Linked DNA regions of Homo sapiens: region 2 is linked to region 1. The links come from fine-mapping of genetic effects on gene expression. Tissue or cell type: whole blood. Region 1 holds a variant in brackets; the other region holds the start of a gene. All regions are shown on one strand. Distances are from middle to middle.

What was found.
Region 2: it holds the start of NUAK1, and the variant in region 1 is fine-mapped to the expression of NUAK1 in whole blood (TOPMed, PIP above 0.99).

Annotation. Positions count from the first base shown.
Region 1 is chr12:106,077,623-106,082,995 of GRCh38, reverse strand. The region is part of intron 4 of NUAK1 (NUAK family kinase 1); the gene reads left to right. Among named protein-coding and RNA genes, the nearest start is that of NUAK1, 59 kb to the left of the region's middle. RefSeq lists an enhancer at 1,605-2,105. The variant C/A (reference allele first, on the strand shown) is at 2,201.
Region 2 is chr12:106,136,155-106,141,527 of GRCh38, reverse strand. NUAK1 (NUAK family kinase 1) reads left to right here and starts at 2,574. Exons shown (of 7, transcript NM_014840.3): 1 at 2,574-3,114. The coding sequence starts at 2,875. RefSeq lists enhancers at 633-1,252, 3,644-4,145.

The sequences.
Region 1 (5,373 bases):
AAAATAAACGGAGCTCGCTGCATGGGTTTCATTATGAAACGGCCTTAGTACTCCCGGCACCAGCAGGAGCCCTCCAATTGGCCGCTGGTGACGTTAGTGGCTTATCCCTGGTCCCTGGGCAAAGCATGGGAATGATTTTTTTGTTGTTGCTGCTATCAGTGGAGGAGCGTGTGATGAGACTTGTTTCCTTGCTTGGAAGGATGGAGTTGCTTTGGTGTTGGGATTCTCTGTACAGATCATGGCAGCAACCATTAGTCACCATCATCCTTTGAGAGGCCCCTGGAAGCCATGACCCAGTGACCTCTTGCTCTTGCAGAGTGTTTGACCGTAGTCACATGTAGTCTATAGAATAAGCAGGAAATAGTTGGTCAAAGTAGTTCTCCATGGGAATAGGAAGTGGAATCGCAGGGTCTATTTCTGGCAAAGTGGTTGGATTATTCTAGAAGGAGCACTGGTTGTAGAGTTAGGAAATTCCGGGCTGTATGGCTTACTAGCTTCTTGACACTGGGAAAACCACTTAACCCTGTTTCCTCAGCTGTAAAACGGGGTAACAGTACTACTCACAGGCCTGCTTAGAGCAGTGAATGAGACACTCTGTGTTTAGTTTTGTAAACTGCTAAGCACTCGTGTCCAAATGAGTCAAAGTTAAAAGCAGTGGCTTTGGAGTTAGATATTTCAACCCTGCCCCTTAGTAATGGCAGGATTTGGGGTAAGTTTCTTGATGATTTAGGCTTTAGTTTCCTCATCTGTCAAGAGTTGCCAGTTCCTGTCTCTGCAGATTATTGTTTATTTGTTCATTTTTGTTTCAAGGAGTATTTTCTGAACTGTTACTGTGTGCAATGCCCTGTGCCCAGTCCTGGAGAGTCAATAATAAACGTGAAGATTTTAGACAATACTACAATCAAAGCAATTCATGCTTAACTGTTACTATACTGGGAGCCTTCTTAAGTGGCTGGCCACTGGAGAGGGAATTGAACCGGAAGTCAGCTGCTCTGAAGGTGCCTACCTAGGTCCTGGGGAGTGGTGGTCAGGCCATGGCTGAAAAATTGGTCTTGGTTTGAGGGCCACCACATTTTTCTAAGGGTTTGTGTCATCAACCTTATTGACTTCCTCTCCAGATCCTTCCTGCCACCTGCCCCCAGAGCTCTCAAAACTAAATGTCATCTTTACAAGGCCTGGAATGTAAGCCTCTTGCCTAGGGGTTGGGTTCTATGGTGCAGTGTGACCTCTTGGTCCCATGATGTATTCCCAGAAGTGATAAGACACATAGCTTTCTATGAAATCATGTAATTCCCTAATGGAGGAAAAGAATGATTAGAATTCTGAAAGCAATTGTGCAGGGAAACAGTGAGGCAGGAGCCCAGGAGAATGGCTTCATTTGTGTAAGCAAAAGGGCAATGATGTTGGGCCTGACAGTTCCCCTGCACCAAGTTCTTCAACCTAGGGTGCCTGTGCATGATGGAGGGAAAGAGCACACACACAAAGCAGTATTATCAATTAAGGCTTAGGCATATACCTTTCCTTAAGAATTTCTAATCCTGGCATTTCCCAAGGTAAAGCACGGGTGTGCATGCACACATACGTCCCAAAGAGAAACCAGATCTTCCCATTATCAACACTTTTAAATTCCTTTCCTCTTTGTTCAAGGAATCCTACTTAGGTCTGAGAATCCTACATCTTTAAAGAACTTTGGGAGTCATTTTTCCAACCCCTTGTTTTAATGATTAGACCCAGAAAGTCTAGAGGATAATGCCCACGATCACACAGTGAATCAGTCTGGACTAAATTATTGTGTCTTTGCTTCCCCAGAGTGTAGACTAGTGCTTGGCACACAGTAGGTACTTCAAAATGGTTTGATTTTGGAATAAAGGAATGATGAGCCAGGATTAGAACTCATGTGTTTGACTTCCAGGCAAATTATCTTTTCATCATCTCCCATCCACTTCCAAGGTTTTAAAAAAATGTGATTCAGCTGGTCTTGATTTGTCTTCTGGTGGTATATTCTCAACTCTTCCTGACTCAGCATTTTGCTGAAACATATTTAGAAAGGACCCATGCTGGCAAAGGCAGGCAGATACATGGCCACAAGCCGGCCTCTGTGCTCAAGAGAGCCCCTGCCATCCGTGTCTGGACCTGGGGGACCACAGACACACGAGCCACGAACCAGCGGGACATGAGCAGCAAGATCCTCTCTTGGAGC[C/A]CCCTCTGGTGCTTCTCTAAATGTGGATCCATTTTCCACGTTTCAAGGGTGGAGGACTTTGGCCTAGGAAGCCTATATAAATGCTACTGGTTTAAACTTGTCACATGTCGCTGCAGTGGTGGGGAGAGCCATGTAGCTCATTCCTCTCCCCTTCCCTGCCTGATGTTGATTTGCAGAGCACACATCTGGCATTGGAAATTATTTATCTGGCACTGCGAGAGGGTGTGGTTTCTAAAAATATTCACACAGTCGGTCAGCAGAAAGAATGAGAGCAATGTGCTGCTTTGGGCTGCATTCCGTACTCTGGAAGCATGTCTACTAAAATAGACACCAAGCACAGCACTAATTTGCAATTAATAAAAAACGGGCCAAATTCACAGCCCACTCTCTGGGAGAATGGAATGCTGACAATTCCCATAGAAGGCTCCTGTAAAAATGTCTTACAATGAGAAGAGGTCCAGGCACCAGGGTCAGCCGACCTCCTCCAAGAGGGCTGGGAATCTGGTGAGCTCCCAGGGCTCAGAGTAGAGGGGCATAGGGGAAATGGCCTGCTGCCCCTTAAGACAATGGAAGCGCGGCTGCTGTGGATAAGAAAAGAAGCTTTGAATGGCCAGGGCCAAGATGAGATAGAAACCTCTGAAGCTTAATAAGACCAAGTGGGGCAGCTGAGAGTCAGCCTCTGGGCTTTGATGATATGAATGGGAGAGCTCTGTGTTCATGCATGAATTAATCAATTCATGTGTTGTGTGTATATATCCACGCATACCTGCATTCACTCATCCATTCCTGCATTTATTCACTGAGGAATTGAACGTCTTTTCTGGGCAATATTTATTTGATCAGAAATATTCATTAAGGTCCTACTGTGTACTTGACCCTGTGCTGGGGATTTAATAGTGAACTAGATGGCCAAATTTCTGTCTTGGAACTCAGGATCTCGCAGTTGTTAAACTAGCAGTGATAATGAGCCGTGAGGAGGATACAGAAGTCAGTGAAGAAGAGAAGGTACCTGCTCTAGTGAGCTTAAAATTCCAGTTGGAGACACAGCAGTAAACAAATAAACACATAATGTAATTGGCTGGCAGTGAAGAAAATCCATGCAGGATGAGAATGAAGAATAGAGTTGCTCTTTTACCTAGAGTGGTCAGGGAAGGCCCCTGGTATAGGACTTGAATTCCTGTCATCCACCAAGCTCTCTCTGGCTTCTTGACCTTGGCACACATGGTTCACACTGTCTGGAATGCTCTGCTCATTCCTTTTTGCCTGCTCCTTCTTTGGGGTCTCTGCTTGACTGCCTCTTCTTCCAGGAAGCCTTCCCTGATCCTTCTCCCTTGGCAGGGCCAAATGGCCCTGTGTAATGTATTCTGGAAGTGCTGAGCAGGAAGCAGTGGGTCTGTCTGGCTGGATGGACCAGAAAGCTTTCATGGAGGAAGAGGGATTGAATTGGGTTTTGAGGGATGGGTAGGAGTTTGATAGTAAGGAGCATGATGATGGCTTTTCAAGAGGAAGAAACAGCAAGCACAGGAACACAGCATGGAGACTAGAAAAGGAAAGTAATGCTTACTGAGCCCCTGCTAGAAGCTAGAGCCCCATGTCAGACCTTCCACACCTTATTTCATTTGGTCCTCAGAATGTCTCCACCGGGGTGGGTGTGATTACATCATTTTACAGAAGAGGAAGCTCTTGCAGCTAATAAGTGATGGGACTGGCTACAAACCTATGGCTATTTGACTCTAAAGACCAGACACCTGATGAATTCTACTCTCTACTCTTACTATCCAAATTTGCCATACATCTAAGAGCACATCAAATGAGGGCACTGTTTGGTCCATGCTTTGGTCAGCCTTACCTTGTCTGCAGGCAGGCTTGCAGACAGCTATCACTGCGAGAGACTCTCCAAGTGCTAATGGTGGCTGATGGCCAGGCTGAGTCATGGTGGCCAGAGTAGCCATGCGGGGATGCCAGGGCTGTGTGCTGTGAGCTGGCACTGGCTGCTAATTAACATCCATGGGAGCTGCTGCTTGGACGCGCCCTCTTTTAAGAGCCTCCTCACATTGTTCCTGGTGGGAATTTCTTTTCTTTTAAGAGAGGCAGCATGAGCTTAGATCCTCTGAAGACAGAAGCCGACCCCACTCACTTCTGCTCCTTGTTCCACTCCCTGCCTTCACTTCCTGGCAACTCAGGAGTGAGGCTGTCTTGAGTGAAGCCACAGCGATCAACTCCAAGGCCGGAAAGGAGTTATGGAGTGTACCTTCCTGGATGGAATTGCTGTCTTCCCGAAGAGTTACACAGAAAGTGCATTTCCTCGTCAGCCACCTGACAGCAATAACTCCCCTTTATGTAGAACTTTACAGCTAAGGCAGCTGTTCACCGATGTCTCAGGCAAGCCAGTTTACCACCCTGTGCCTCAGTTTTCTTATCTGCAAAATAAGGATAATTTTAGAATTCCACTATCTGCAATCTTCCAGATAGGGTTGTTGTGAGAATTTACTACATCAATATATGTAGCACTCACAGAACCGTGCCTGGCATATAGCAATGCTGCTACTGTTACTTTTATTTTTAGAGACAGGGTCTTGCTCTGTCGCATAGACTGGAGTGCAGTGGCACCATCATAGCTCACAGCAGCCTTAAACTCCTGGCCTCAAGCAGTCCCCCTGCCTTAACCTTGAAAAACACTGGGATTGCAGGCATGAGCCACCACATCTGGCCTATTTTAATTCTTTTCTTGTTTAATCTGGCTTTGATTTTCACAGCACCAAGTGATTGGCGGTATTGCAATTCCATTTTCCAACAAAGGAATCTGAGACTCAGAGAGGTTAAATAAAGTAGTCATAGCTAACATTTACTGAAGGCCTACTGTGTGCTAGGTAGGCATGGTGTAAGCACTTCCATGAATCAGTTTATTTGGTTTGGTACCAGCACTTCCAGGTAGGTGACATTATTATCATCAACCCCACTTTACAGATGAAGAAATGCAGGCTTAGAATGGCTAATGTGCAAGTGCGTATTATACACTGGGGCTCTTGTGAAAATGCAGTTTTAGTGGATCTGGGGCAGGGCCTGAGTGTCTCAGTTTCTGAAATGTTCCGAGGTGATGCTAATGCTGCTGGTCCGTGGGCCAGATTGGAGTGGGGTGGGATTATCTAAAGCGCCTTGGGTTAGATGCTGGT
Region 2 (5,373 bases), 59 kb before region 1:
AGGAGAAGGGGGAGCTTTGGAACTGGACAGGTAGGGTTTAAATCCTGGTCCTGCCATTTACAAACTGTGTAACCTCTGGGAAATTACTTAACCTTTCTGATACGGTTTCTTCAATTGAAAATAGGGATTGTAAACAGCTACTTTACAGAGGAGGGTTTACTGTCATAAAACAGTACCAGCCTATGGTAGATGATGCTGTTGATTCAATAGATACTGATGAAGTCCCACATATCTGGGAGTAACACTATCAGCCAGAATAAGCCAGGTTATGCTGCTTTAACAAATCCCACTGACTTAACATAAATAAAGTTTAATATTTGCTGACACTACTTTTCCAATGCAGATTGGCTGGGATTTTCTGCCATCTTTACACAGAGACTCAGGCTGGCTTGGGGAGGCTCCAACTTTGTACCACCATGATTGTCAAGATAGGAAAAAGAAGACATGGGGATTTGCTCACTGGCTCCTAAAGGTTCCAAGTGAAAGCAACACAATCACTTCTGCTCTCATTCCATTGGCCTAAGCAAGTCCGATGGTCTCATCTAACTTCAAGAGGATGGGGTAGTGGATTTCTACCACATCGCAGGGGAGGGGAAGAAGTAGAAAATATTTTAAAATACTACTGTAGACACAATGTGTTTATCTCTACAATAGATCTGCTAAATCCATATCTTAAGAGAAAACCGAAGCTCTGAGAGGTTATGTCATTTGACCAAGGCCACACAGCCAATCCTCTGGGAAGCCAGGACTCAACCTGCATGCCACTCATCCTGACTGTGGGATCTATAGGCACAACGTCCACAAACTGTATAGAAGCAGAACAGTTTCAGGATGGGGGTGGGTGGCAGGGAGGCCCTGCAAATGCGGTGGACAGAATAGGAATTGAATAGGCATGATGCGCCTTTGTGTCTGTGTTCTGTCATTGCTCCTGGGGAAGGGAAGAAGGGGCAGGGAAGTTTGTGTGAAATATCAGTAGAAGGAAAGTTTGGACAGGTAAGAATATCACGCGTCAGAGTACAGCAGAGACACGTGTGGAGGATGAGGGCAGTGTTTCAGGCCATTACTCTGGCAGCAGTGAGGAGGCTCCCGGGGAGGGTTGGGGAGAGCGGGCTGTTGCTGGAGTCCGGGGTAAGGTGACCAGGGGTAGACAGGAATGAAGGCGGCGGGAATGTAGAGGAAGGGCTGCACCTGAGAGCTGCAGAGGAGGCCCCAGTGAGGTCCACTGGTGGAAAAGAACCGCCATGCGATCTGCAGAACACCAGACCTTCTTCAGCCTTCACTCTTCCCACCCTAGTCTGGTACATTGCACCACTTGTTAAAAAAAAAAATTTCCCTAAGACCTCTTTTTCTCTAGCCTTCTTCCTTATTTTTCATGGTCTCTTCTTAGAACGGCGGCAGCCACGCCGCGGTGGGAGGCCCTTCCTGCCTGACCCTTACCGTGCGGGGTACCGTTCCTGTCACCATCGCCAGGATCTGGCCCTTTCAGTGAAAGGAAATCTCCCAAGGCCTAAGGAGGCAAGAGGCCTGCAAATCGCCTCCTGCTCAGCAAACGGGTTGCTCAGCAGGCCCGGGGTCCTGGTCCACCCCAGGTCCCTGGTTTGCCCACCTCCGATGGCGGCCTTCGCTGGCAGGGTGGGCGCCTCTGGGGAGCCAGCTCCGTCCCGGCGCCTTTAGAGCCCCATCTCTTCCACGTCCCTGGCCTTCCTCCCCTTCCAGGCGGCTGTCCCCGCCGGGGTCCAGATGGTGTCGGAGGGCCGGCGGTTCGACGGCGGGCCCGGGGTTCAGCCTCCCGGCCTCCCTCCGTCCCTGACTCTCCTTTCTTCGGAGAGGGCGCGGGGGCCGGGGCCAAAGCGCCGCTCTTGGGGTTCTCCTGGACTCGGAGTTGCCCCAGGCGGGCGCAGCTCTGCCCCGCGGGGTGCCAGCCTCGGGCGGGCAAGGTCCGTGAGTCACCGCCTGTAACCGAACACCAGGCCTCCCTGCCCCCTCCCCCAGCTCCGGCCGCCAGGCTGCGGCGACACCTACAAGAAAATGAAGGGGCGCCCAGGCCCGCGGCGGCCCCGGCCGTATCGCGAGCAGGTCCCGGCGGCCCCCGGCTCGCGGCGCTCTTTCTTCCCCGGCCCCGGGGCTCGGCCAGCCGCAACCGCCGCCCCGGCGCCAGCAGGAATCCAGGCCGAGCGACCGGCCCCGGAGCCCGAGGCGGCGGAGGGCCCGCGGTAGCTGCGACTGGCGAGCCCGAGAGCGCCCGGGGAGGGGGCGCCCGGCTTGGAATTTCCCGGTCCCTTCCGGCCCAGCGAGGACAAAGCACTCCTGGCCGCCGCCGCCGCCGCCGCCGTGGCCTACGCCGCGCCGCACAAAGGGCGAGTCGCGACACGCTCCCATCCCCCTCCCAGCTCACGGCGGCCCCGGCCCCGGGTGGCTGCAGGGAGGTGGGGGAAGCCCTGGCTGCACCGCCCCTCGCTCCCCCTCCCCTGGGGCCGCGCGAGCGCCGCCCCCGCCCCGTCTGCGCGTCCTCCCGGGGAGGGGTTGGGGGGCGCGGCGCCCCACATAACACTCCCCCTCCTGCGCTGCGAGCCACCCTCTCCCCTCCCTCCTGCAAACACCACCGCCTCCCCTGCCACCGCCGCCACCTCGCCCGACGCTCCACAGCTCGCCGCGGCCGGGGGGCGGTGCGCGGACCGTGCGCGCCGCGGGCGCCAGATGTGCAGTCCCCGCCGCCGCCAGTGACCGAGCCGCAGTCCGAGCGGTATCGGGCCGCCTCCCTGATGCTGCGGGGGCGACCTTGAGCGTACAGCGGCTTCCCTCGGTGGGGACCCCGACATCCCAGCGCTGTGCCCGGTCTTGCCCTCTGTAGCCCGGCTCGCCCCGCGCTTGGACATGGAAGGGGCCGCCGCGCCTGTGGCGGGGGACCGCCCCGACTTGGGGCTGGGGGCGCCGGGCTCTCCCCGAGAGGCGGTGGCGGGGGCGACTGCAGCCCTGGAGCCCAGGAAGCCGCACGGGGTGAAGCGGCATCACCACAAGCACAACTTGAAGCACCGCTACGAGCTGCAGGAGACCCTGGGCAAAGGCACCTACGGCAAAGTCAAGCGGGCCACCGAGAGGTTTTCTGGCCGAGTGGTGAGTGGGGCAATCCTGGAGGGTGCGGGGGGCGCTGGGTGGACGCGGCCGGGGACTGAGGGCGTGCGAGGCGGGGGTCTGTGCGCCCTGGGGCTCTCTTGACAGAGAGGGGGCTCATTGGGAAGCCCCGAGACAGACTCCTCACTCTTTCTCCAGCACCCCGTGACTCAGGCGTGTCTCTGTCCTGAAACACTTGTTACATCCTGTCTGCACATATTTTATTTTATTTTTTGGTTTGTTTTTAAAAATTTAATCCTAGCAGCAAAGGAATGTTTTAGATTTGCAAACACTTTGCAGCGTTGGGACGGCCGGGGTCTCTCTCCCTCGCAGGCACTCATTTAGACCATGCCCCGAAACGTCTTATTTCCACAACTCTCCAAAGAACCACATTCCCAGCTAGGAGCTAGCCCCTCAAGTCCGGTGTTTTGTAGGTGTCCCTACCCCCTTCCACCCATCTGCCCGCAGCTCCTTGCTCTGCATCCTCCCACTCAGACTCTGCATCGCCCTGATACTGCTGTGACTGCAAGGGAGGGCGACTCTTGCCTGTTTTTGAGACAAGGTTAGGGAGCAAAAATAAAGACTACTGCAAGCCTGAGGATTCTAACAGTTTGCATCATGGCTTTGGGAGGACCGAAATGTCCAGGGCATGGGTAGCTACAGAGATAGCTGTGCTTAGTTGCAGCAGGCTCAGTTGTGTTTCAGCTCCTGGTTGCAGGGCTACCAAACCGCTGAAGGGGTCTGGCCCCGCTGCTCTTGTGACAGCTGACACCCTGCCAGGGTCCTGGCACCATTTGCACAGCTCCAAGGAGTGCTTTGAGTGCCTTGGGGTCTGTCTGCCTTGTCCCAGCCTTGGTTTGTTGTTATTTTCACTTCTGCAGAACAGGCCCTTGAAATCCACACTGCTTGTGGCTAGAGAGTTGGGTTCAAAGTGACTGACTGTTGCAGAAAGATTTTGTGTGGTGTGTGGCAGAAAATTAACATGGTTCTTTGATTTGAAGCAGATCAGATGTATTCTAATCGATTTAGGGCCAAAGTCAGAAACTGATTATGGGACTCCTTGTGTGCACTTTTGGGGGTGTTTTGGAGGCTCAGGTTTGCTTATAAACAACAAATGACTGCAGGGAAAAAGGAAAATGAGCTGTCAAATAAAATAGCAGCTTAGTATTGACATGTTTCTTTTGCATTTCGGCAGGAACAGTTCTGTGAAAAAAACATGGGGGTGCCAGTCAGCAAAGTTCAGTCCCCAAATTCTCAAATATCTGGATACCCGGATAACGCCCTCCCAACCCATTTCTCAGATTTGATGTTTGGGTCTATATAACTTCGTCCCATAACGTTATTTTAAAAAAAAATCTGTTATCAATTAATTGGAAATTTGAGATGGCGTACATTTCTTTTTAAAGCTGGCTCTGTAATAAATTCTACAGCAAGCAAGTAGTTGAGAATTCACTCTGGGCAGGTGCCATTTTCGTAGGATGAAATTGTTAAAGGGGAGGGTTGTAAGGGTGGCCTCTGATGAAGGCAATTTCAGGTTTGTGGAAGAAGAGGCTGGGAAACGTGCACTTCATTCATGCTTTTCTTCTGAGGTGATATTCCCCAGGCTGGATGTTGAATAAGCAAAAACTAAGCTTAGATCCCTGCTCATGTTGTCTTAATAGCTGCTGAAGAATCGCACTGGGAAGGTGGGAAGCAGAATAATGAAAAACAGACGCAGTTCGAGCTGCAGGTTGAGAATGTGAGGCTATGAGGGGTTGTTGAAGTGGTAAGGGTGTGTCTAGGGTCTGTGAAGGGACCCCAAAGTCTAAATGCTGGGGCACTACCTCAGACCTTTCTAACGAACGAACCCTTGTCTTATGGCAGACGCCTTTCTGAGCGTCAGTGGGACTTCCTGTCAGGCGTTCTTGAGCTGTCTGATCCACAGACTAGGTTAGAGTGAAAGGGATTTGCATCAGTAGGCAGGAGTCCGCCTTTCTCTTTTGGGGGATGTCTTTCTCTGTATTTGCAGAAACTGAACATTCCGTCAGGATTTAGTCAAGCGGCCACGAGGGGGCGCCCTGAGAACGAGAGAGGCTTCTTTACCAGCCGCAAATCTGAAGTCCCGCTGTGTTATTGTTCAGCCCTAGTTCATTTTCCCATTGTGCTATTAATTTCAGCTAAATCTCTTGTTTTACCCCAAAATTATGTAAAGATTTTAAATCTGGCAGCAGACCCACGCCCAGAAACTGACAGTCTCTAAAATGCTTCGTTTATTCATGGGGC